7 linked regions of the Homo sapiens genome follow. The protein of the gene in region 1 purifies or fractionates together with the protein of each later gene. This does not show direct contact. Each region holds a gene or a part of one and is shown in the gene's direction. Other genes may lie near its edges. The genes, in order: AKAP5, PRP4K, TNPO1, OTUD6B, TRPV3, SLC25A12 and DERL1.

The links.
Region 2: the proteins of AKAP5 (region 1) and PRP4K purify together in Homo sapiens (affinity purification with mass spectrometry; one large-scale study listed by BioGRID and IntAct). This does not show direct contact.
Region 3: the proteins of AKAP5 (region 1) and TNPO1 purify together in Homo sapiens (affinity purification with mass spectrometry; one large-scale study listed by BioGRID and IntAct). This does not show direct contact.
Region 4: the proteins of AKAP5 (region 1) and OTUD6B purify together in Homo sapiens (affinity purification with mass spectrometry; one large-scale study listed by BioGRID and IntAct). This does not show direct contact.
Region 5: the proteins of AKAP5 (region 1) and TRPV3 purify together in Homo sapiens (affinity purification with western blotting, with the first as the bait; one study listed by BioGRID). This does not show direct contact.
Region 6: the proteins of AKAP5 (region 1) and SLC25A12 purify together in Homo sapiens (affinity purification with mass spectrometry; one large-scale study listed by BioGRID and IntAct). This does not show direct contact.
Region 7: the proteins of AKAP5 (region 1) and DERL1 purify together in Homo sapiens (affinity purification with mass spectrometry, with the first as the bait; one large-scale study listed by BioGRID). This does not show direct contact.

What each region holds. Positions count from the first base shown.
Region 1 is NC_000014.9:64,471,751-64,475,003, forward strand, and holds the end of AKAP5 (A-kinase anchor protein 5), read left to right. Parts: 3' UTR 1-2,753; downstream 2,754-3,253. UniProt on the Homo sapiens protein: Multivalent scaffold protein that anchors the cAMP-dependent protein kinase/PKA to cytoskeletal and/or organelle-associated proteins, targeting the signal carried by cAMP to specific intracellular effectors.
Region 2 is NC_000006.12:4,062,392-4,065,483, forward strand, and holds the end of PRP4K (serine/threonine-protein kinase PRP4 homolog), read left to right. Parts: 3' UTR 1-2,592; downstream 2,593-3,092. UniProt on the Homo sapiens protein: Serine/threonine kinase involved in spliceosomal assembly as well as mitosis and signaling regulation. Connects chromatin mediated regulation of transcription and pre-mRNA splicing.
Region 3 is NC_000005.10:72,910,661-72,914,888, forward strand, and holds the end of TNPO1 (transportin-1), read left to right. Parts: 3' UTR 1-3,728; downstream 3,729-4,228. UniProt on the Homo sapiens protein: Functions in nuclear protein import as nuclear transport receptor. Serves as receptor for nuclear localization signals (NLS) in cargo substrates.
Region 4 is NC_000008.11:91,073,344-91,076,843, forward strand, and holds part of OTUD6B (deubiquitinase OTUD6B), read left to right. Parts: intron 1-487; coding exon 488-568; intron 569-3,248; coding exon of another isoform or gene 3,249-3,388; exon of another isoform or gene 3,389-3,389; intron 3,390-3,500.
Region 5 is NC_000017.11:3,530,313-3,533,812, reverse strand, and holds part of TRPV3 (transient receptor potential cation channel subfamily V member 3), read left to right. Parts: intron 1-875; coding exon 876-1,156; intron 1,157-3,500. UniProt on the Homo sapiens protein: Non-selective calcium permeant cation channel. It is activated by innocuous (warm) temperatures and shows an increased response at noxious temperatures greater than 39 degrees Celsius. Activation exhibits an outward rectification.
Region 6 is NC_000002.12:171,786,245-171,789,744, reverse strand, and holds part of SLC25A12 (electrogenic aspartate/glutamate antiporter SLC25A12, mitochondrial), read left to right. Parts: intron 1-1,797; coding exon 1,798-1,956; intron 1,957-2,083; coding exon 2,084-2,174; intron 2,175-3,500. UniProt on the Homo sapiens protein: Mitochondrial electrogenic aspartate/glutamate antiporter that favors efflux of aspartate and entry of glutamate and proton within the mitochondria as part of the malate-aspartate shuttle.
Region 7 is NC_000008.11:123,015,487-123,018,302, reverse strand, and holds part of DERL1 (derlin-1), read left to right. Parts: intron 1-2,717; coding exon 2,718-2,816. UniProt on the Homo sapiens protein: Functional component of endoplasmic reticulum-associated degradation (ERAD) for misfolded lumenal proteins. Forms homotetramers which encircle a large channel traversing the endoplasmic reticulum (ER) membrane.

The sequences.
Region 1 (3,253 bases):
CAAGAGCTCCACTTGGAGGAAATAATGCACATTAGATGATTTTAAATGATCTGGGTGAATTCTTGCATTGTGTATGGATTGCATATAGAAAGTATTTGCTACTTTGTCCTACAGAATCATCTTCATTTCTTTCTGTAAATACATATTGAGACCTCTAACAAAAGAAACTAATCTGACTTGGAAATTGAACCAAATCATGGATATTATTAGCAAGATTCTTTGCTGAAGTGCAAAAATATTTCCCCCAGATTTTCCTACCTTCATGCTTATAATCCGGGGAGGAGGGTGGAAATCCTGAGCAAGATGAAAAGTGTCATTCAAAACACATGACCCAAGAAGTCAATTTCTTTTAATTGTACAACTTTTAAACATTAAAAACAAAAAAGACGAGTCATCTTCTCTGAAAACACTCTTTAACTCACTATATGTGGTGCTAATGGACTTGGACAGCTACCAGCTATCATATTTAAAAGTGAACCATTTTAAAAACCTGACTAAGGTTGGTGCATTTTACAGTGTATTGAAGAATCCTGCCCTCATTTACTGCAAGGATGCCTCCAAGCCAATACACTTGCATTGTAAATGTTTAGTAATCTCATGAACAAGCAAAAAGTATAGTACTTAGCAGTTATTGGAAATATTTTGGGGGATTTTTAAAAAAACAGATAAATGGTAAATATGTGCAATGAATTTTTTGGTTAAGAAAGTAAAATTTTATCTAATACTAGGTTTTTACTTTTTTCACTGTGGTTTGATATATATTTTTGGTTAGAATGTACTGATTGTTTTTATGATAAGATGTATATTTTACTTGCATTCATTCTTAAGAGGTTTCTGTTTTTCTATTGAGAATATCTGTTGAATTAAGTAGGATTTCAGTTAGAAAAAGGAATTCCGAAATTAACTGGTCTCAATCTGATTATATGTGCTACATGGCCAAATCCTATTACAGTGAATTCTAAGGTGATTCAAATTGTTTTATTGTTATAGAAATATGCAGAAATCAGATGGCTTCAGAGTCATAAAATATTTTTCTTGTAATAGTATTTAAGCAATTTGACCTTATATGCAAACGTTAAGTGAATATAAATAAGTTCTGTTTCAATTCATGTCCATTTAACAACATTAAAATAATTATTAGGAACACCACATGAATTTTCTTTACATTTGCTGTGGTATAAATTCTGCTTTTAATGAATGTTTATTTATTTATTAGCCAAAATTCAGTTTCTCTTTGAACCCAGAATTTTGCAAAGCTGGGGGTTGGGGAGGGGGATTATTAGCTACTTGTTAACTTTTTCAGCATATTATCATTCCTCTTTTAAGACTCAAGTATTATTCACTTTGCTTCTTACAACCCAGAGAATGTGAAAATTCTCCTCTATTTTATGTAGCACTATTCACTTAACATTTTTTCAAAGCACTTTATAGGATATAAAAATAGTACCCGGTAACATTTAAGTAAAGGTAGCAGAAAACAAAAGAACTTTCAAACAGAAATTATGTTCCCTGCCACCTCCTCCACCTCAAAGAATAATAAGCATGTGGCATAAATGGAGTTGTTCAGAAAAGCTGTCTGCATAATTTTCCTTCAAGGTAATGTATTTGACAGCATGAAGTTTGTGATGATCTTACTTGGTCTACTACTCAGCGGAGTCTTAGAATCTCTTTTATTTACTTCTGAGAGATTGTTATTTCACCAGTATATGTGAACAGGCTTGCTAAAGGCATTAAAGATATGGATCATGGAGGCACCAAATTTGGCTTCTGTATGCAATCCAGCATTAACTTCATCCATACATTTCTAACTTCATCCATAAATTTCTAACTTCAAGTTACCTTATTTTTTATAGTTAAGAATGTTTTTCGAGGTTTACAACAGAATTTAAAAAATAATTGTTAGGCTTTAGAATCCCACTGTTTGAAAAGATCCTTTTAATGTCAACTTTATTGAAATATGTAGTCTACTTTCTAATTTCATCTGATAATATAGCAGGATTTGATTTTTCTGCCTGCCATTTGTGCATTTAAAAAAAAATCCTCATTTAAGATTTAGAGTTCTTTAGGTTCAAATTCCTATGATGTTTTATTGGGTAACATGAACTCTCTTATACATAATTCAAAATTTCAATCCATGGTATATTTTATGGTACATTTTGAAAAGAAAATTTGTAATGCTCCTTAGTTACAAAAATTAGAAGGAAGCTACATAAAATTCAGGTGTCCTAATTAAATTCAATTTGATTCAACACACGTATTAGGCATAACTCATACCTAACACTATTTGATAAGGGAGACAGGCTCCCTGCCATCCAAGAACTCAACCTAGGGAGCAGTGACAACAGAAACCGGGTTGGGTTAAGGCAAAGAGCCATGGATAATGCTGCAACATGAGTGGCACAGAGGGGAGTACACAGAGAGAGCAATTAATTTGGTGTGGGGAAGGTGGTGATCTGAATACAGCAGCAGTTTGAAAGTGTTCCGTTTTTAAATAAACAGTATGCTTATTTTGATTTGTGACTAGGTGTAGAAAAAAGCCTGCATAGTGTTACATATTTATAGTAGTTCTTTGTAAAAATGTTAAGTGGATGAGCTATTATGAAAGTAAAAGTTTCATTTTTTCTCATTAAAATTAGTACTAAATTACTATGGATCAGATGATAATATTAAATAGTACTCTGTAGAAAAAAGGTTTCAAGTTGAATTAATTTATGTACTGATTATTAATACAGAATAAATGTTATATTGACTCATGTTTATTCAGATCTTTTAAAAGAACTGTGGGCAAACTATGTTCATTTCCTATAACTGTAAAGATCACATTGATGGAACTACTGAGTTCGCACTACCAAAAGTTCTACTCTGCTAATTGGGAATTGGACAGAGATTTTACAACAACACTCCTAAAACAGTCCTTCAGCAAGACAAATATAAACACCTACAATGCTGAACTAATTCAGCCAAAAGGGCAGTTCTGAATTTGATGACATTTGTGAATTTGACAAAAGCACACTGTTTTCATCTCTTGATATACTCATTATTTTCTGCATTAACCTATGAATTGTTCATCTTTATGATTTTTCAAAAGACTAATCAATGTGAAAATGCTAGAATTATTCAGACGGTACATACTAAAGGTGGGTGTTTAAAAAGTTCTGTGTTTACTAAGACACTGATTTCATTTTGGTAATGTTAACACTCTATCTTTTCGTAACCACAGCCCGATGATAACAATCAGGCTCTAGGAAGGACT
Region 2 (3,092 bases), on another chromosome or scaffold:
GTATTATTAACATGGTAGAAGAGAATTTTTCAGAAATATATGTAATCTTTGCTGTTTGGGGGGTAAAATTAATGCTTGTCTCCCTGAGGAATATGGAAAATAATCAGATTTTAGGGGTTTAAATAATATTTTTAAATTGTAAATGGGATTTTTTTATTCACCCAGGCACCTAATTACAACAAGCATGCACATTTTGGTGCATTCAAGAATGGAAAATCAGAATAGCAGCATTGATTCTTCTGGTGGGTTTTGCTCCATTTAAAGACATGAAATGAACTACAGCCAGGAAGGTGATAGATGATATAATAAGCCACCTCTGAACCTACACCCCGTCTCTTCACGGTTTAGACTTACTAAAATAAATACAAGGTGATTTTCATCTTCAGGTAGAGTGAAGCCTTTTAATTAAGGCGTCACAGGTGCAGCTATTCTACCTTAATGAAATGGGTAGTGATTTTCCCACCATTATTTATTTCGGTGATAATATGCTGCATATTCAAGTCTCTTGTAGTTATTTTCACCCAAAGTAGTTGACAATTTGATGCTTCTGGTGATGTTTATGGCTTCATTTTATGTAATTTTTTAAGTAAGTTCCACTAGAAACAGTTCATCTTATACCTTCAAAACTGTTACCTGTTCTTTAAAAAACAAAGTTGCTTGTTACTTGTTCTTTGTGTTTTAGGTGCAGCTCAGTGGAAGATGATGACAACCAGAAGACATGAGCTAAGGTTTCTGTCCTATAAAAGATTTATTAAAAAACAATCCTTCATTTATTTTTTGTCTAATTTTTTAGTTTTCAGCATTATGATTTGGGTTTTATTGGTGTTTGGTATTTAGAATTAGTGCTGTTGTGGAGTGCGTCTGTAAAGTGCTTGTTTTATCATACTTCCTGCCTCTCCCCTCCCCCAGTTTCTCCTCCCCTAAAATAAAAATAGTGGTCAACTTTAGTAATATAAAAGGCTGCTGGATGCTGAGATTCCACATAACACATGGTTGTCAAAATTGGATGTTAAGGATTCTTAGAAAAACAGCAACCACCAGAATAGCATATATCTGAAAGTAGTCTTCAGCTTTAGGCAGATGCAAAAGAATACAAACTGGAATATTAAGAATACTGTTCAACTCCTTTAGTATCTGTTCCCCAACTTACCCTGTAGAAACCTCGTTATTAACCAGTGTTCCAGTCTTAAAGTAGACAAAATATTCAGAGCCATTTTTTTTAAGGGAAATGAAAAAGATACTCTGGGTTTTTTATACTCCCCAATTTAGCATATCTAGACTACCTATTTGAAAGGAACCCTATCAACTGTCTTATGTACGTTACATGATTTTCCTACACTCTGTAATTTTGCTGAGGTGCAATTTGGAACTCTGCAAGACCTACTAGATTGAATTTATTTAGTGAATGCTCCTGAATAAATGTGCATTCCTCTTTTAGAGTAGCTGTATGCTTTTCAAATGCTATCTGCCGTGAATTTTTTGCTTTTATTATACTTTATGGCAAAAGTGATATCAAGTGATTGTCAGACTTGAGGGCTCATAGAAGTGTTAGGTACGGCTCTCAAAGATGTTACAGTTTTTTCTAGGGTTGGGAGAATAGTTGAGATCTGGAAAGCATAGACATTTTTTACACTCTGGATAGACTTTATTCTTGAAGATCATCAGAAATGAGGTTGGAATTTCGAGGTTTTGAGCAGGGGGAGCATCTTATATTCACCCTTAAATCGTTATTAATACATCCTGTTTTCTTCATTCCCTGATAGCTATCTCATTTCACTCTACTGTCTCAAAATTTTGTTTTAAAATAATAGAAATGTTTTGCCATTATTAAGTACCACTTTATTCCTAACAAAAATAAGTACTCAGGACTTTTTTTTCAAAATGAAATATTTATGTACTGTTTTATGGTATGTGGTAGAGTAAGTAAAATGTAATGTTCTCAGTTTTGTTCCATATTTGCATTCCTCTTATGCTTTACCTGTATTTTATCATTTGTAAGCAGAACTCTAGCTATATGGGGTAGAAATAAAATCTCTGAGATGAAACAAAGGAATCAACATGATAAAATTTAGGCGAAGTAGTTAAGAAATGGCCCTTTTGAATGTTGAAGATAGGAAAGAAAGCCATATATTCAAATATGTAATTTTCCTCATTTAGTTATAATGACATCTTTACCAATTGGGCTTCATAAATGTGTTTCTTTCTTAATAGTATCCTAGTTCCAGCATATATTCAACATGAATTTTATCATTCTCCTCCTAATGGAATGTCTTCCTTATAGAAATGTTCACGACAAATTCATTTGTGTTTTTTACATGTCAATAATGTATGCTAAATTAAAATGTTTTCCAGTTATTCTGATAGATGTCATTATGGCATCCTTAATTTTTCTTCTCCTTCTGTATATAGGGTAAGGGACTGTTCTGAAGAACCTTTCCATTTAGTGATCAAGATATGGAAGCTGATTTCTGAAAATGCTCAGTGTGTACTCTAATTATTTATGGTACCATTTGAATTGTAACTTGCATTTTAGCAGTGCATGTTTCTAATTGACTTACTGGGAAACTGAATAAAATATGCCTCTTATTATCATATTGTCTCCTGGTTTTTTTCTTTGGTTGAGTTCAGATTTTCCTCACAAACATCAAAACATTTTCAAAGCATTAGGTGCACAACACCAAAGAGTGTATTATATTCGTGTTCCTGTTACATACATTTCTGCTTTGGTTTTCCTAGTAAAGGAAACAGATAAGTAATGAGCCAACTCCTGTTTTTATAATGATAAAAATAAATTGGTTCATTGCTCACATGATAGCTTGACAAATCTTGGGCTCTTATCCTCAGTATACCCACTCTTTATTTTCTTCTTTTAAGGAACTGTTTTTGGCTTTTCAAAACAGTGAGTAAAATAGATTCACAGTGTAGTTTGTGAATCTTAGTGCATGCAAAGCAGATAAGGCAGGCAGAATGGCCTTGTAGAATGCACCCACCCACCCCATTGGAGCTAACCACCGCAGAGTGGCAGGTAGAAGCTAGTATGCTTGATTCTGGGCTGAGAAATGGTCAAATGGCACTGGCTCTGGATAGTCTTC
Region 3 (4,228 bases), on another chromosome or scaffold:
ATGGTTCTATTCTCTAAAAGTGTTGAATGATACAGCCATTGCACTGAAGTTTGAGCTGTGTGCGTGTGAATTTATACTGTTTCAAAAATTTCAAATGCATGGTAGCATGTAGAAAGGTTTTTGTTACTATGTGTGTGTGTGTGTTTTGTTTTGTTTTGTTCTGTTTTTTAACGTTCTTTCACCTTTCCTCTACTTTGGCTTTGCAAATTTCAGTCTGTAGAGCCTGAAATTAAATTATTTTATAGTGCCTGATATTTTTAATATTATAAGTTGGATTCAAAGGGTATACAGCATTTTGTTTTCTAGTACCATTGCTTCACTGGGAGCTCAAAATTTGCCTCCCTGTTAGTCTTTAATAACTGAGTAGAGTAGCTTTTTTATTCTTAGATTATAGTGATATTCTGTAGTGCTTCAAATACTTAGAATTCTAATATGAGAGATAGTTTAATATTCTGGAATAGAGAGTATTTTAAATTGAAATGACCAAATTCGATTTAAAACAAACACATAACAATCTTCAGTAAAGTTATTTGAACCTGTGGTTGACAATTCTGTATTGACTAAAGGCAATATTGTCACCTGTCTCATTAAAAATTAGTTTCCAGTTAGGCAGATGAATAACACTATTAAAAATGCACCCAGTTTTGTAGTCACTTGACTTTTTTTTTTTATTTAAATGAAATTTAATTTGAAAATAGAAAATAAAATTAGGTAAATATGACTGGCAACCTGAATTTGAGTTGGGATTCTTTGTGTATTTTTCCCCCTTGAGGTTATTGTTTCTTCCTAATTTATATTTCAGATACATAGTGTAGAACAGGAATTTGCAGAAGCCATTTAAGTTATCTTTTGAGGTAAGCTCTGATTTAGCATTTATTCTGATAAAATCTAATACATCATGGGATATATATAAAGCAACTTAATTCTTGTGGTGTAGTCTTAATAGTTTTGAATGTTGACTGAATGTCTATAAAATTGTGAGTTTGTCTTTGTTACATTCCAGTGTTTCTGCCTCTTGGCATGCTTAAAGCACGGCTTACTTCATCTGCTCCTTACACACTAAAATGCTGTTAGTGTGCTCAACTACAGAAATAGCCGCTGCTAAGTGATGTAGATTTTCTACTTGAATATTTTTATGTTGTAGGAACCTCAGGAGGTCAGTGTTTACTGTTTTATATATGCCTTCTTTTTCCTGTTTGAGCTTCTCTCTTTGAAGGATTCTAACAGAACAAAGCTGCTGATCAACCTAAGTTGGAAACAGAAAGTGTAATTAATATAACTTAAATGCATGTTTGGCAGTTCCATGTTACAGTCCATTAGCGAGTGAACTTAGTGCCACAGGTATTCATTTATTCAGGAAAGAATTTTGCTTTTTGTATTGTCTAATCTCTTCAATGACTTCATACTGTGTAAAAAAAAATCACTTTTTAATATTTTTTGGTTGGTTATTTCCCAAATAATCAACATGTAAATAATCTTTTAAGAGCCAGTTCTGATGCTTTACATTATTGCTACTTGATTTTGTTATGCAAGTTAGATTTCAGAAGAATAGATTTTAAAACACTTAACCAAGCCATTACATCTTAAAAACAAAACAAGTAGCATACATTTTGTAATTAACATTGATAAACACTGTGATTTTTTTGGTTAAGACTTTTTCATTGATCTGAATTGCTTAAATTGCATATATTGTAAAATAGGATCAGATGTATATTTTAAACTAATTTCAATGGATTTTCCTCTTGAAATGCTTTGTCTACTCAGTTATAAAATATTCAGATACAAGTTTTATCTCAGGTGAATACTCTTGTATTGTTTTTGCTTTGGTGACATGCTTATAAAGGGTCATCCTAGTTACATTCTTTGTTTTTTAAGTGTATTTCATTGAGAATCTTTCCATTTAGTCTGATTTTTTTCCTAATATTCTAGCAGGCTGGGGTGGTATAAAGCCCTCCTGACAAGCCTTTTGCCTACAGGTTTACCTGAAAATGAGCTACATATGGTCGTCATTTTCTTCAAACTCTCAAAATAGGAAAGTGGAAATTTTTCTCCCCTATATAAAATTATTCTGCCTAGCAGAAATGCCAGAAATAAATTAATTGCATCTTAGTCTAAATTTAAGTCCTTTGCCATGAGGAAAAAGTGGTTTTTTGCTTCATATGGTAAATCTATATTATTCATATTGAATGTATTAACAGATAATGGTGCAAAAGCATTCTTCCCAGGGGAAGAGTGTATCATGCATAACTGCAATTTAAGTCCTTCCTTTGATAATACTTCAAAACATACACAGCTTTGCTTACTGAATTATTTTTGCAAATAATACAAGGAGGGGAAACTAACTTGCTACTAGTGTTGTTAATGAAGTATAGGCCTTGGAACATTTAAGAAAACTGGTCTTCAGATAGTTAAGGGCTTGGGATAATTTAAGTGAAAAGTGAGATCAGTAATGAGCTGTGTTGTTAACAATATTATCTGGTAATAATACCATGCAATATAGCGTTGTATACCAACTTAGTGCATTTTATACTGTATTAAATATGGAGATACTTCTAATGCCTCTCTAAAATTAAATTTTACATAAAAGTTAGTTTTATTCACCTTTAGGCTTTCCAAGTGAATTGTGACTAATTTTTTCAATCTTACATAGATCTTTCACCCATTAGCATTACTTACGTAGATAATTCTTTATGCCTAGTTATTATACATATTAATTTTTAAGGTATACATTTAAATTACACAATTGTTCATTGTGGTTTGTATCCCAGAATGTGTTGTGTTTTTTAAAAGATGCATAATAGCTGAATGTATGCATGACTTTGAAAGAAGTTAAAATGGTGATTTTTTTTCACCTCTTGTACATTTTAAAACCAGGCCAAATCTATTTGCCAAGCAGTGTATCACTAATAAGAAAAGCAGTTTTTCCTTTTATTGCAGTTTTTGTTTATCTGCCATAGAATTTCCTTATACTGTGGCTTGGTATTATTCAAGATTAGCTATTTCGCTGGTATTACATCTTTTTAAAAGCCTATTATAACATGGTTAGCCTATAAGGCAGTGTTGGTCCCCTTCTAATATTGGCCTCATAAAGGGGTTCCACTGTACTTTCCGCATATTACTGTGTTGTTGTTTTCCTTTGTGGATATATAAGCAAATTGAGCTTGGGTGATTTTTATGGAGACAATAATTAGACAATACTGTATAATTAGTTTTACTTAATAGATTATCATCTTGTGAGAAGAGATGTTTAAACGTGGTAAATCACTTCATATTACAAAACAGTTTTACACTTAATATGTTAACATTGGGTGCAATAATTTAGTAGCATTAGCTTTAGTTACAAATATAACTGGATCTTTCTGCTGACAACTTAGGTTGTATGAGTTATGCTTAAAAGCTTTAAATCTGATGTTTCCTGTACCTGCCACACTATGTTAGAATGTGTCCTTCAAACATATCCTCCTGCAACTTCTCAAACTGTACTAAATTGATATTTCTTGAAGTCTAACTCTGTGCTAACAGATCTCCATTTTAAATAGAATACGGTTTTAATTTTTGATAAGCTGCTGAATTTTAAAGAGAGTTTTTTGGGGCCACCAAATATTTTGGATCATGCAGAGAATATATATTGTACTGTAGTAATTTTGTATTTACATTTGTATGATGTGACATAATAGATGTGAATGTTAATCACTGCTTGACTATGTTAATAAAGTTGTTTAACTATAGATGTTGCACTCTGATTTTTAATGAAAGGAAATGAGTTTTCTTTTTCCCTCTTACCCCATTTTGGATCTAGATAAGCCTTATGTTTTTTGGGATTTTTTTCCTTGTTTTTAGTTTGAGGTTTTGTTTTGTTTTTTCCTTAGCTTACACATTAGTACACTTTTGTTGTTGAACATCATTTATTTCTTAAAACAAGTGTTTTCTTATTTGTATAGTATAGTAAAAACCTGTTTTTCCACATTTTAACTTAACTCCTTGATGTGTTTTAAACAGTTGATTATAGGTTCTGCTGTTTGAGGATAGGGGACATACTATTCTGTAAAAGGAATTAAAGGCGAAATTGTGAATATAAAAAGTTGATGTAAGGAGAGATTGCATGAGTGTGTATGAATGTATGTCCTATTAAGGCTTCCTCTTTATCCTTCAAACAGTTAAGATTTGTAATTTGGGGAATTAACATTTATAAGAGTAATTTTTTCTTCAGGTTGTAAGGCATTAATAT
Region 4 (3,500 bases), on another chromosome or scaffold:
TTTGTAGATGGAAAAGGGTAGGGTAGGAAAAGCTCAACTTGCTACTAGGGTCAAGGATTAGTACTCATCAGGTTCTGGCTAATTAAGATGGAAAAAGGCCTCTGCTGCCAGTAGAGGTTATGCAGGTAATAATGAACTGAGCCAGCACAGGACCTTTATCTTATATGTACTGGCAGTAGTCAGAGAAAAGAAGAGTGGAGTGCTAAATGAGTTGGCGCTTACAGGAAGTACAGTACTGCATTTAGATTAATGGAGTAGGCATTCTAAGAAGGAAGGAAAGCATGCAGGGATGAGCATGATCTTTGAAAGAAACTTCTTGGGAACTTGTCAAATTCTTCCATAAAAATAGAAACAGGAGACAAAACCATATTATCTAATACAGTGTCTATTGCTGTTACTCAAATTTGAAATGTGGGATTAGATATATTTATGATTTTCAGTAATTTAATAAGTACATTGACTTGTTAATGCTTTTTGTTTCCTTCAGATAGATTCTGTTGCTGTTAACATTTCAAACTTGGTGCTTGAGAATCAGCCACCTCGGATATCAAAAGCACAAAAGAGACGGGTATGAAAGTCATGTCACCAAGTATATAAGTTAGTGCTGTGTGTTCAATACTATCTTAGGTACTATCTTAGGTCTTGTTATAGGAAGAGAATGAAAAAAAAATGATGCAGTTCCTTGTCTAGGCACTTGAACTAACATTTATTAAGCACCTGCTGTGTGTCACATACTATGCTAAGCTGCTTATATGACATCTCATTTAGTCCTGACAATAATCCTGTGAAGTAGGATTTCTTATCCCCATTTTATGGAGAAGAAAATGATCCTAAGATAATATAAAATAACGTATTCAGGTTGCAGCTCTCATAGGAGAGCGAAGCTGGGAGTGGGAGTGCAAAGTAGTTTTTTTTACAAATATATTATCCCAGACTTAAAAATTCAGAATGTGGGCCCAGGGGATTCTGATGCACAACCCTAGCCAAGAACTATACCATTGGGTGAGAAATAAGGATTTGAACCTAGAAGTTAACATGTGTAGGTATACAAAATTCTTAGAGAATTATGTAGGTATCTATATAATGGTTAATTATGAAAATTTAGAGAAGGGAAAGTTCATTATGCTAATAATGGGTTGGAATTTGAAAGAAATATTATTTAGATAGGATATTCCAAATAGGAGGAGCAGCATGCACAAAAACAAATGTGGGGGTGATATATTGCATTATTGAAGAGCTATAAGGAAACTGATTTATTGGAAGTAGCTAGTTCATATCAGCATTATGGAAATGAGATTAGATAGGTAAGTCCCTTTGAATTTGAAAAAGAAAAATGATTAAATTCAGTCTTTTTAGTTGCGAGTATTATTTTATTAACACTTGATGTTTTCTATGGTTTAAATGCATATTTTTAAATTCATTTTGCATCTTATGACATAGTATGTAATTTAGTAGAGCATGGAGTTTAGTGTCAAACAGATGAGGTTTTAATTTCATTTACTGTTATACTTTGGGTACGGTTCTTCTTTAAGCCTCAGTTTCACATCTATAAAACGGGGGCAAATTATAGCTACTTCATAAGCTAATTCATTGTGAATATTAAATACTGTACTATTTCCAAAGCCTTTAACACAAGGCCTGGAGAACTAATGGGTCAACAAATGATAGTATTGTTTCTATATTAAGTAGTGTATAGTATGCCTCTTAAAAATGTAACCTAAAAGCAATGTCTTTTTCTGTGTTAAGTAGTGCATACTATGCCTCTTAAAAAATTAAACCTAAAAGCAATGTCTTTTTTTGTTTGCAAGCTGATGAAATGCACATAGTCCAACATTTCTCATTCTTGTGTAGAATTTTATTTTTGAGTAAATATAATTGTGAATTTTGTAGATTCATAAAATTTAGATCTCATGGAATCTTGGAGATTGTCTGCTTAGGATATGCATTCTTTTGTGATGATCTCACAATTGTCTAGCTTCTATAGATCAAAAAGGAAGGGCAGAATTTTTGCATGCCAGTAGCATAACAAAACATTGGAATTACGTCTACTTAGTAATTGAAACATCTTATAATAGCCTATTTAATTCTGGAAAACCTAAGGGCACAAGTTCTTCCTATCTTTATCAAAACTTGTTCCTCCCCAGCTGGACCTCTAACAACAAAACAAACAAAACGAAAACTCCCTTACCTTTCTCAAAAATTTTGTTACTTTTTCCCTAAGATACTGCACAACTGGAATTAATACTTTTGTCAGTTATACTCTCAAACCATTTAGTATCTTTTATAGTCAGCTGCTTTAACACTTGGTAGAAAAAATGCCCAAGTAATGTTTTTACAGGGTTATATTAATGGGATTTTAGAACAGAAAACATTAAACGTTTATAATGCTTAAGAAAATGGAACCTGAAGTCAGGATGCACAATCGGGTGTTAGATTATTTGGAACCTCCTTTTTGCTAGAAGCACCAAGGAATGCAAAGTCATTTAATTAATGATGTTTATCTTTGGGAAGGATACAACTCTGGAAGAAAAACGTGATAAAACTTTGTCAAGATTTATTTTAAGAATATCGTGGAATATTGTAGAGCATATCTCTTATTTTTAGTCTAGAAAAACAGTATTTTATTCAAAGAACTTACAAACTTTTTGATATGAGAGAAAGAGTCTAAAATAGAACTTAGAAGAGCTGGGTTTCAAAAATATGGAATTTGAGGGCTGGAATGAGATTGAATTCAATTTCTGTATTTTCCAATGAGAAAGCAGAGACCCAAGTTATCTCAATTGTACACTAAAAGTTTGATACAAACCCAGGACTGGTGTCCAGCTCTTAATATTCCCTTTGAATCTTCTTTGTTATATTACTATATCAACATGACTGTAGTTTTATTGACAATATATTTATGATTTACATGCTATTTTCATCTTTTATACGTTTTTATTAGAACTTATTAGTGCCATTCTATCTCCACTACTATAGCTGTAGAAACCAAAGTGCCTAGTGCTCTTGGGAAACTATATATTGCTGGAAAAAGAATTCAGTGGATTTCTTACCTAGTGCCCTGAAAAGGAAACTCAATTGCTTTGTTCTAATGAAGCAAAGCATGAAGGGAAAAAAATGAAATGATTAGAATTAGTATTTTAGAGGCTTAAACAGTTTTGCAGATAAGATAAAGTGCCACTCTTTCAGTAAATAGTACATGACATCATTAACTCCAGCTCCCATCTGCTCCAACTTTTATTCTGATTCAGGTGCCTGGATAGAAGGAGCTCTCTGTGTTGTCCTTGGTCCCTGCTCTGCTCTTACCAGCTGTATGGCCTTTGGAAATCTTTCTGCGTGCTGTTTCCTCAGAAGAGGAAAATGAGGGGTTTTGGATTAGATGATATCTAAGGTGCTTATTCTTCCTTTCCCCTCTGAAACTTTTTTAGTCTTTTATAAAGTAATAGTGCCATCTTGTGTTTTAAGATATTATGCCTCTGTGATCCACAGTTCTAGGTACACAG
Region 5 (3,500 bases), on another chromosome or scaffold:
TAAAAAATACAAAGTAGACCGAGTGCAGTGACTCACATCTGTAATCCCAGCACTTTGGGAGGCCAAGGCAGGTGGATCACGAGGTCAGGAGTTCAAGACCATCCTGGCCAACATGGGGAAACCCCATCACTACTAAAAATACAAAAATTAGCCGGGCGTGGTGGCGGGCGCCTGTAGTCCCAGCTACTCAGGAGGCTGAGGCAGGAGAATAGCTTGAACCCGGGAGGCAGAGGTTGCAGTGAGGCGAGATCGCACCACTGCACTCCAGCCTGGCGACAGAGTAGGACTCCATCTCAAAAAAAAAAAAAAAAGTAAAGCAGAGGACAAGGAACCAAGAGTTCTGTCTGGGACAAGAGGAGGGTGGATTTTAATTTTAAATAGAGTGGTTAGGGTGGCTCACTGAAAGGTGACATTTGAGCAAGGACTTGAAGGAGGTGAGGGAGAAAGTGACTGGGCTATCTACAGGCAGAGGGGACAGCCGAGCGAAGGCCCCCAGGCGGCGTGTTGGAGGAGGTGGAAAAAGGCCGTTGTAGCAGGAGGGAGTGAGTGATGGAGAGAGGAGGTCAGAGTATGCAGGGCTTTGTGGGCTGTCATTGGAACCTGTGCTTTCATTCTGGGGGAGGCACTAACAGGTTGGTCTGGCTGCTGTGCTGAGCAGAGTATTAAAGGGCCAGGGTGGAGGCAGGGAGGCCAGTTAGGAGGCTACCGCAGTGATCTAGCTTCACTCTTCCCCGTAGAAGCGGAAGATGGGGAGAGGGCTAGGGAACCTGAGGTGCCCATCCTGCTGAGATAGGATATGGGCCCCAGTCCTGGGGCTTGGGGGACGCTGCTTCCGGCCCATGAGAGAACCAAGCTTCAGTGCGCTCATCCCCCAGGTGAGACGCCCCTGGCCCTGGCAGCATGCACCAACCAGCCCGAGATTGTGCAGCTGCTGATGGAGCACGAGCAGACGGACATCACCTCGCGGGACTCACGAGGCAACAACATCCTTCACGCCCTGGTGACCGTGGCCGAGGACTTCAAGACGCAGAATGACTTTGTGAAGCGCATGTACGACATGATCCTACTGCGGAGTGGCAACTGGGAGCTGGAGACCACTCGCAACAACGATGGCCTCACGCCGCTGCAGCTGGCCGCCAAGATGGGCAAGGCGGAGGTGGGGCCATGGGGCGTGGGGAGGCAGGAGGTCGGGAGGTCAGGAGGTACAGCTGCCACCCTCTCAGCCCCGGGGGCCTTACTGGGGATTCACAAACCACAGCCTCAGCCTTGAGAAGGTCCCAGCCTTGGGTCCAGAACTGCAGTGGCGTGGCGGCCGGAGGCAGGTTTGTTCTGAGGGGCCACGCGGAGCTGGTGCGATGCAGCCCACTCTCTAGACTTCAGTCCCTAATACGCCGCGTTTCCATCTCTTGTCCTGGGAGGGCTAGGCTGGGGGAGCCTGAGGCTGAGGTGACACAATAGCCCCAGCAGTGGGTGGCCCTTGGGGCCTTCTGCCTCTCACGAGGACGGGAGTTCCAGAATGGCTGCTGCGGGCGCAGCGCTAATATGCTGCCATTTCCCAATTATGGGGAGACCCCAGCCTGTTTGTGCGGTTGGAACTCTGTGCCAGGTCCCCAGCCAAGAGTGTGGCCGCTTTGGGCCCTTCTTGCCTTGTGTGATGTGGCTGAGAAATCGAGGCTTGGCTGGGAGCCTTGGTGAAGACTTGAGCAGGGCTGGGCTCAGATCTCTTTCAGGGGCCGGTGTCATGGCTTGGTCTGAGATGTTCTTCTCAGGGGACTGATTCTGGGGTCCAAGCGTGTTCCTCAGCCTCACTGTCTCTACGCTCTGCGAGGAGGCTGTGGCTCCTGGGACGCCATCAGAGGACACTGGGGGGTGGTGACTGTTGAGTAATCGCAGCTGTGCCAGCCTCAGGGTACCCGCCTCCCTGGTCAGCTGCCCCGAGGGCCTTGGTCCTGTCCCAAGTGGTCAGGGCTGGGACCCACAAGGGGCCTTTTGATTCTCCCGTGGGGGAGGAGGAGATGGAGAACGGCTTCAACAGAGGAGGAATTGTGTGTCTGCCTCCCCGCAGCTCCTGCCTACCCTCAGGGTCACAGCTTGCTGGGGCTTTGAAGAGTCAGCTTGTGGTTGCAGAAGGAGCCTTCTCCAAGGCCGTCTTCCCTGTGTGCCACTGTGGCGGGTGCTGTCCCTGCCACCCCAGCCCAGGGAGGAGGCTTCCTGCATGGAGCATGGTCCCAGGACCCCCTTGTTTTCTAGGGGACAGTGTGCCCGCTGTGGCCGGCCCGGGGGAGGCACCTGTCTCCCGCTTCCCTCCTCTGTTCCGTGTCCTCCAGAAAACTTTTCTGGATGCTGCCCAGCTTGGCCACCGTCCTGGGGCTTTTATAGGCTGGGGTGCGGGGCGGAGAGACCTGGCCTTATCCCTAGAAGCTCTCTGCCTGGGCTCTCATGACAGATGGGATGGGAACCCAGTGGGTCTTGTGAGGCCAGGTCTCTGACACTGTCCTTCCCAACAGTCCCTTCCTCTTGGGTCTTGAGTTGGTGTCCTAGGAAGTCCATGTCTCATCCTGGGGTAACCCAGGGCTCAGCTTTTTGGAAGTAGGAAGCCAGAGACAGCAGCTCTGTGTCCAGCCTGCACTTTGGAGCCAACCAGGAAGCTTCACAAATACAGACTCCTGGGTCCCACCCTGGATATTTCGATTTCATCAGTTGATGCTGTGGGAATTTTTGGTTTTTTTGTTTGTTTGTTTTGTTTTGTTTTTTTTGAGACTAGAGTCTCACTTCATTGCCCAGGCTGGAGTGCAGTGGCGCAATCATGGCTCACGGCAACCTCCACCTCCCAGGTTCAAGCGACTCTCCTGCCTCAGCCTCCTGAGTAGCTGGGGTTACAGGCGCCTGCCACCACACCCAGCTAATTTTTGTATTTTTAGTAGAGACAGGATTCCACCATGTTGGCCAGGCTGGTCTCGAACTCCTGACCTCAAATGATCCACCCGCCTCGGCCTCCCAAAGTGCTGGGATTACAGGCGTGAGCTACTGCACCTGGCCATGCTGTGGGAATTTCTAAGTTTCCCAGCAGCCCTAACATGCAGCAGAGTTTGAGGATCACTGGCCTACCGAAGTCCCACGGGCCTCCCTGTAGGGCGTGGTGTCTCTCGTCACCACCTGCCTGGCCAGAGTGGTGAGCCACAGCTGGAGGAGTCTTGGCTTAGGGTGGGCTGGGGACGCTGAGAACACTTCTGGCTTCTTCTCAAGTCCAGAGCAAATGGAAACTGTTTCTAAAAAATCATCAGTGCCTGGATTTTTCACCGAACCGGGTCCCCAGCTGGCGTGAGGCATTTCAAGCTGATTGTGCAGCTTGCTGCAGCCTGCGAAGAACCTTCACACCCTTTGTCCCTGGTATTCACAACCCCCAGTGAGATGGGCGGAACAGCAAGCTTTGTGCGCATTCCACAGATAAAGACGGGGCCCAGGGGCCATGGCGCCAGGCGCAGAGGCAGGTCTCCACC
Region 6 (3,500 bases), on another chromosome or scaffold:
TTTTTGTATTTTTAGTAAAGACAGGGTTTCACCATGTTGGCCAGCACAGCTGGTCAGAGCCACACTGAGCTCTGTAATGGTTCATTACTGGTTGTATAGAGAGCAAACATGCACCCCTTCCTTCCTTTGTCTTTTCGGAGTGTTGGTGCAGCCAAGGACACCTGGTTCTCTCCTCCTTTTCCAAATCAGCTCCTTCCTAACTCAAGAGTCAGGCTGAGGCCGAGCTTGGTGGCTCATTCCTGTAATCCCAGCACTTTGGGAGGCCAAGGCGGGCAGATCACGAGGTCAGGAGATCGAGACCATCCTGGCTAACACGGTGAAACCCCGTCTCTACTAAAAATACAAAAAATTAGCCGGGCGTGGTGGCGGGCTTCTGTAGTCCCAGCTACTGGGGAGGCTGAGGCAGGAGAATGGCATGAACCTGGGAGGCGGAGCTTGCAGTGAGCCGAGATTGTGCCACTGCACTCCAGCCTGGGCGACAGAGTGAGACTGTCTCAAAAAAAAAAGAGAGTCAGGCTGTAAATGTGAGGTCTCAAACTCCTGACCTCAGGTGATCCTCCCATCTTGGCCTTCCAAAGTGCTGGGATTACAAGCGTGAACCACCACACTTGGCCCAGTCTCCTACTTTTAAATGGGGGCAGCATTTGCCTTCCAGGCTTTTCCTTGTGCTTTCCAATCAACAATGAAAAACAGCCAGAGAAGAAGAGTCTAATTGTGGACAGGTGTTTGCAAGTGGTTGAACCAAGTAAATATTTCCATGGAACTGTCAGCACCGACTTCTTCCCCATAGACATTTGATGTCAGTTTTCAGAATGAGATTATTTTTTCTAATTTTTACCAGTCAAGCTTTGCTAGCAGGAACTGAGAACATTCAGAAGTCTGCCTCCAAAGGCAGGAAGTTTACCTAGTTTCATCTGAATAGGGTGCAAGGCCATGCCAAGGGGAAGTATTTGCATTATTCCCTAGCAGAACCTCGTACAAGGCTGCCAACTCCATCCGCCTAGTGAGGATACAGTGATATTCAGGCCAAATTGAATTTCTTCCCCCGGGGAAGATTATTTTGCTCCTTTGCTCTCTGTTTTGTTTTATAAGTAAAAGGTGTGGTTGTGAAATCCATCTTTTGTGTCCTGCTGCTGATCAATCTCAACATGACCCCAGGGAGCTCGGGCACAGGGGCCTTTCCCTGACCAGCTCCCCTGTTGTTTCTTAACTGGCTGCCTGGCCACCTCTTGCTCCAGTTGTAATGACTTTTGTCATGTAAGCATGTCTGAAAGGAGTCACAGTCAACTCTCAAGGTAGCCCTTCAAACAAGCGAGTGATTATAAGTATTGATATTCACTTCCCACACTACGACAAGAATCAGCAAAAACAGTAGTTTGGTGTCAGATACATTTAGTGACTCACTAAGATGACATTATCATTTTTTTATACATAAAAATACTTGTATCTTATTTAAGAAAAAAAGGAGGTAAAATAATTGAAACTGAAAGGGAACGCTTGGGAATTGTCTTATTAATATTGCTACTTTTTTTTTCTCTCTCACAGTTATTTGGGATCATGCAATGTAGAGTGATTTTTTTTTTAATTCAGGAAAAAATAATAATAATTTTCCCCTGATCACACTGCAACAGCTAATAGGCTTCTATGCCCTTTTCCCATTAATGGCCAGACATCTATGTAAAGAGTTTTGAGTTCCGCTCAAGTGGTTGAAGTTGCAGGCTCTATAGTAGATGTTAGCAGTATTCCTATCTTTTATAAGGTACTCTAGATAAATTAAATGTGGTTTTCTCCTGAAAGGTGTCCCAGCTGCATCTCTGGTGACCCCTGCTGATGTCATCAAGACAAGACTGCAGGTGGCTGCCCGCGCTGGCCAGACGACATACAGTGGTGTCATCGACTGTTTCAGGAAGATTCTCCGGGAAGAAGGGCCCTCAGCATTTTGGAAAGGGACTGCAGGTAGGCAGGGGCTGGAGCCATACAGAATGGCTGGCTGGCTCTAGCGTCCTCCCCTGTGACTCAGTGGCTATCTTTACCACATTTGTCCTGGTTTCAAGTCTCCCCTGCCCCTGCTTCTCTTTTTCAGCTCGAGTGTTTCGATCCTCTCCCCAGTTTGGTGTTACCTTGGTCACTTATGAACTTCTCCAGCGGTGGTTTTACATTGATTTTGGAGGCCTGTAAGTCAGCTGCTCAACTCCTTTACAAAGAAATCACTAAGTCCAAAACAAATGTTTGTTCTGTCTACAAAAGCATTGTTGCAACTCTTAGAAAACTGATAAGACAGAACCTTTAAGACCAATGCATTTAAAACAGTGAGCTTAAGAAGCATTTGTGTTAAGCAAGTAAAACTTGACAGAGTGACATCGTACATAATATTAAGCAGCTATTTGGGGGATTTTAGGGAAGCAGCAAATTTTTTTAAAAAAGACAGGATATCCTCTGTTGCCCAGGCTGGAGTGCAGTGGCATGTTCTTGGCTCACCGTAGCCTCAACCTCCCGGGCTCAAGCGATCCTCCCACCTCAGCCTCCTGAGTAGCTGGGACCACAGAGGCATGCCACCACACCCAGCTAATTTTTGTACTTTTTTATAGAGATGGGATCTCACTGTGTTGCCCAGGCTGGTCTCGAACTCCACCAGCCTTGGCCTCCCAAAGTGCTGGGATTACAGACATGAGCTACCGTGCCTAGCCAGGAGGCAGCAGATTAAAATGCTGTGTAAATAATTGTCTTTTTTCACATAAGCAAATACTGAACTTCATGGCGTTCTCATTATGTGGATTTTATTATATGGCCCTTTCACAGAAGTAATGTAAATGTATACCAGTAACACTTTTGTGCATTTTCTTTCAAAGTCCCAAGCCCTTTTGCATCTCTGATATTTCATTATTCACCACAATTTATTATTAGTTAGGTGCAGATGTTCTTGAAGCTAATTTACTGGAAAAACCAATAGGTTTGAAGAGAGATTTTGCCCATGGATATAATCACTAGTGAGCTGTAGGCCAGAAATTGGGCTTCTAAAAGCTTACCACTTGAAGCTTGCACTGAGAAGAAGAATTACAAGTTGAATTTTCTGGGTGGGGAAGTTGTACCCAAAGCAAGCAATTATTAGCTTTTCAGCAGAAGACCAAGTACCATTCCTGAGTCCTCACATCAGAAACCTGTGAACTCCTCTGTGCCCAAAGGCCATATAGGGAATCAGCTGCTGAACCAAGTGGAGGGACCTATGCAAAAAAAGTGAGAACAGCAGTCTTACAGTTGCATTGTAGAAATGTGAGGCTTCAGGCTTTTCCATGCTTCTTTCATCTTCTGTAAAAGAACTAAAGCTATTTCTCTCTCTCTCTTTTTTTTTTTTTTTTTTTTTTAGACGGAGTCTTGCTCTGTCGCCCAGGCTGGAGTGCAGTGGTACGATCTCGGCTCACTGCAACCTCCACCTCCCAGGTTCAAGTGATTCTCCTGCCTCAGCCTCCTGAGAAGCTGGGACTAAGGGCGCCCACCACCGC
Region 7 (2,816 bases), on another chromosome or scaffold:
AGGCTGTCGAAGAACGGGCCAGTTAAATCACCATCTGGGTGTCACAGCCTGCCTGACAATCATGCCTAATCTCATATCAGGGATATGCAGTAATAGCTTGCATTTGAAAGCTTTAAAAAAACAAACAAACCAAACCCTTCCACATCTTGCTAATTTTAATGTTTTGCAGTTCTGTCATTCCTCTAAGGGATCAGTGAGGGCAGTAAAACTTGAGCAGGCCTCCTCTTTCTCCCCTTCCTTTTATAGGGTAGGGGTATGTTTTTCAAAGACTTTTCAAATTGTGAACTGTAATATACAGAGATATACCATATTGGTGGTTGTGGTGTGTGTGTTTTTCTTTAAGAGAATAAAAAGAAACTTGTTTCTCTTCTGAGCCTTGAATTGCCTTCAGGCTAAAAAAACAAATGACCAATCTGGTTTCTAATTATCAAAGGACATAATAACAGCAGGTTTGGCTTTCTGATCTAGGTTTATCAAGTAGGATGGCAGATGCATCAATTAAAAAAAGCTTGGTGCTTTTGGGGGGCAGCCAACAGTTACTTTACTTTAAATGGCCATATTCTAACTTAACGGCTTGTAGCTACTTCTCAGTTGTGGGCAACACAGGATACAAGATTCTAGTGGCAAAATCAGCGAGCCCTGGAGCCTGCCTTCCACTTGAACTTTCTCTGTTGGGGGAAGTCCTTCTGCTAAATTTTGCATAAAGATCAGATGACAAAATACAGCTCCTTGCAAAAGCAGTAACTGCTTTGAAATTACCATAAATTTTTGTTGATTATGTATAATTGGGTATCTTTTTATACTAATTATTTGCATTTAATTTCACTATCTACTTAAGCAGTGGAGATGGCTTCCATATTGTCTTAGAGTGAGTAGCAAAGCAAGACAGCCCTAGCATTTTCTCCAGCAAGTGTTCTATTTTATTATGTACTTTGGAGGAATATTATTGTACCAGAAGGCATGGATGTTGAGAAACCAGCACTTGGAAAATACATTTTGATTTAATGGTAAAGCTGTATTTGTTTAAAATGGAGGAGGTGAGTATAGGAAGGTATAACTGCTTTTCTAAATGGAATGCTGATACATTTGTATCACCATTTTCCATTCCATTTAGAGTAGTTATATCTTCTCTGTACACACTAAATTTTGTGTTTAAAAGGGGTTTTTGGCCAGGCGTGGTTGCTCACGTCGGTAATCCCAGCATTTTGGGAGGCCGACGGGTGGATCACGAGGTCAGGAGATCGAGACCATCCTGGCTAACATGGTGAAACCCTGGCTCCACTAAAAATACAAAAATTAGCTGGACATGGTAGCGGGCGCCTGTTGTCCCAGCTACTCGGGAGGCTGAGGCAGGAGAATTGCTTGAACCCGGGAGGTGGAGGTTGCAGTGAGCTGAGATCATGCTACTGCACTCCAGCCTGGTGACAGAGTGAGACTCCGTCTCAAAAAAAAACAAAAAAACAAAAACCCGAGTTGTTGTCTGTTTTGGGAAGAGGCATGAAGGTATCGAGTATGATGTAAACAGACTCCAGTCACTGACTGCTGTCCCTTCCCAGGCAGGATGCATGTAGTATAACAAGTAGTGCAGGGCGCAGGCTCTGGAACCAGGCTGACTAGGTTGGAATCCTGTCACTTTCGAAGCGCTTCACTCAGTGTTGGCTCAATTTTCTTGTTTATAAAACAGGAGTAATAGTAATGCCTACCTCATGGGGTTATTGTGAAGATCAGATGAATTTATAAGCAGGCAGCACCTAGTGTAAGGCAATAATCACTGAGTAAATTCACATAGTAACTGCTCTAGTATAAGGTCAAGTATAAAGCCTGTCCTCTTCAGGGTTTCTGCTGTGGACAAGTCACCTGTCATGACTTACTCTTGCTGCCAAGAAGGGTTTAAGCGGAGGTATCAGATCATGCTCTCTGCCTTCAAGCAAAATTTTAAACATTAGGATCTGCTAAGTGGAATAGGTTTAAACACATTCTCAGTTTACTAATAAAAGAGTCAAAGATGGGAAATAGTTGGAAAATACTATTGAGAGTGTAGGCTTGGGTTTAAGTTCTCTTAGCTGTTCTGTGAACTCTTAGTTTATTAATTTTAAGGTGGGAAATCATCTAACCGTCTGGGGCCCCAGCTCTCCCACCATCTGTGAGAAGGGAAGAATGTACCTGGAAGGCAGATTCTGAATAAATTTTAAAACATACCCATACTTCCAACATAGAAAGCCTTCTTCCCCTGTCTCCTTTGATGGGCTCAGCTGAGAGCCTTTTAGAAATGCTGTGCAAGGCTCAAACATGCAGGCTGTGGATTTGGCCTTTGAAAGTGAATGTATTTTGTATCCTTTGATCCAGTTTGAGCCATATTTAGATATACCAAGATGCTATCAGTCATTCTTTGGTTGCTGGGCTTGTGGGTGTAATATTTTTGTTTCCATACTGTTCTGCATGGATTACTTTTATAAGCAGAGAAAAAAACGTTCAGAGTGTGAATTTAGCTGAAATCTGAATACATTTAAGAAACATGAAAAACGAATGCCGTCTGTGGTCAGGTCATGGGGCTGAGTACAGAAAAGACAAAGTTAAATAAGACGTCCCTCGCTGCCTTCAACATGACAAGTGCCATGGGAACAGCAGGAGAGGGAGGTGTTCTCGGAGGTCAGATAACTATGTGGAAGTGACTTTGTTCTCTTCTCTCCGTTTGTGTCCCCGTCTTTCTGCACCAGGTACCGCTGGCTGCCCAGTAGGAGAGGAGGAGTATCAGGATTTGGTGTGCCCCCTGCTAGCATGAGGCGAGCTGCTGATCAGAATGGCGGAGGCGGGAG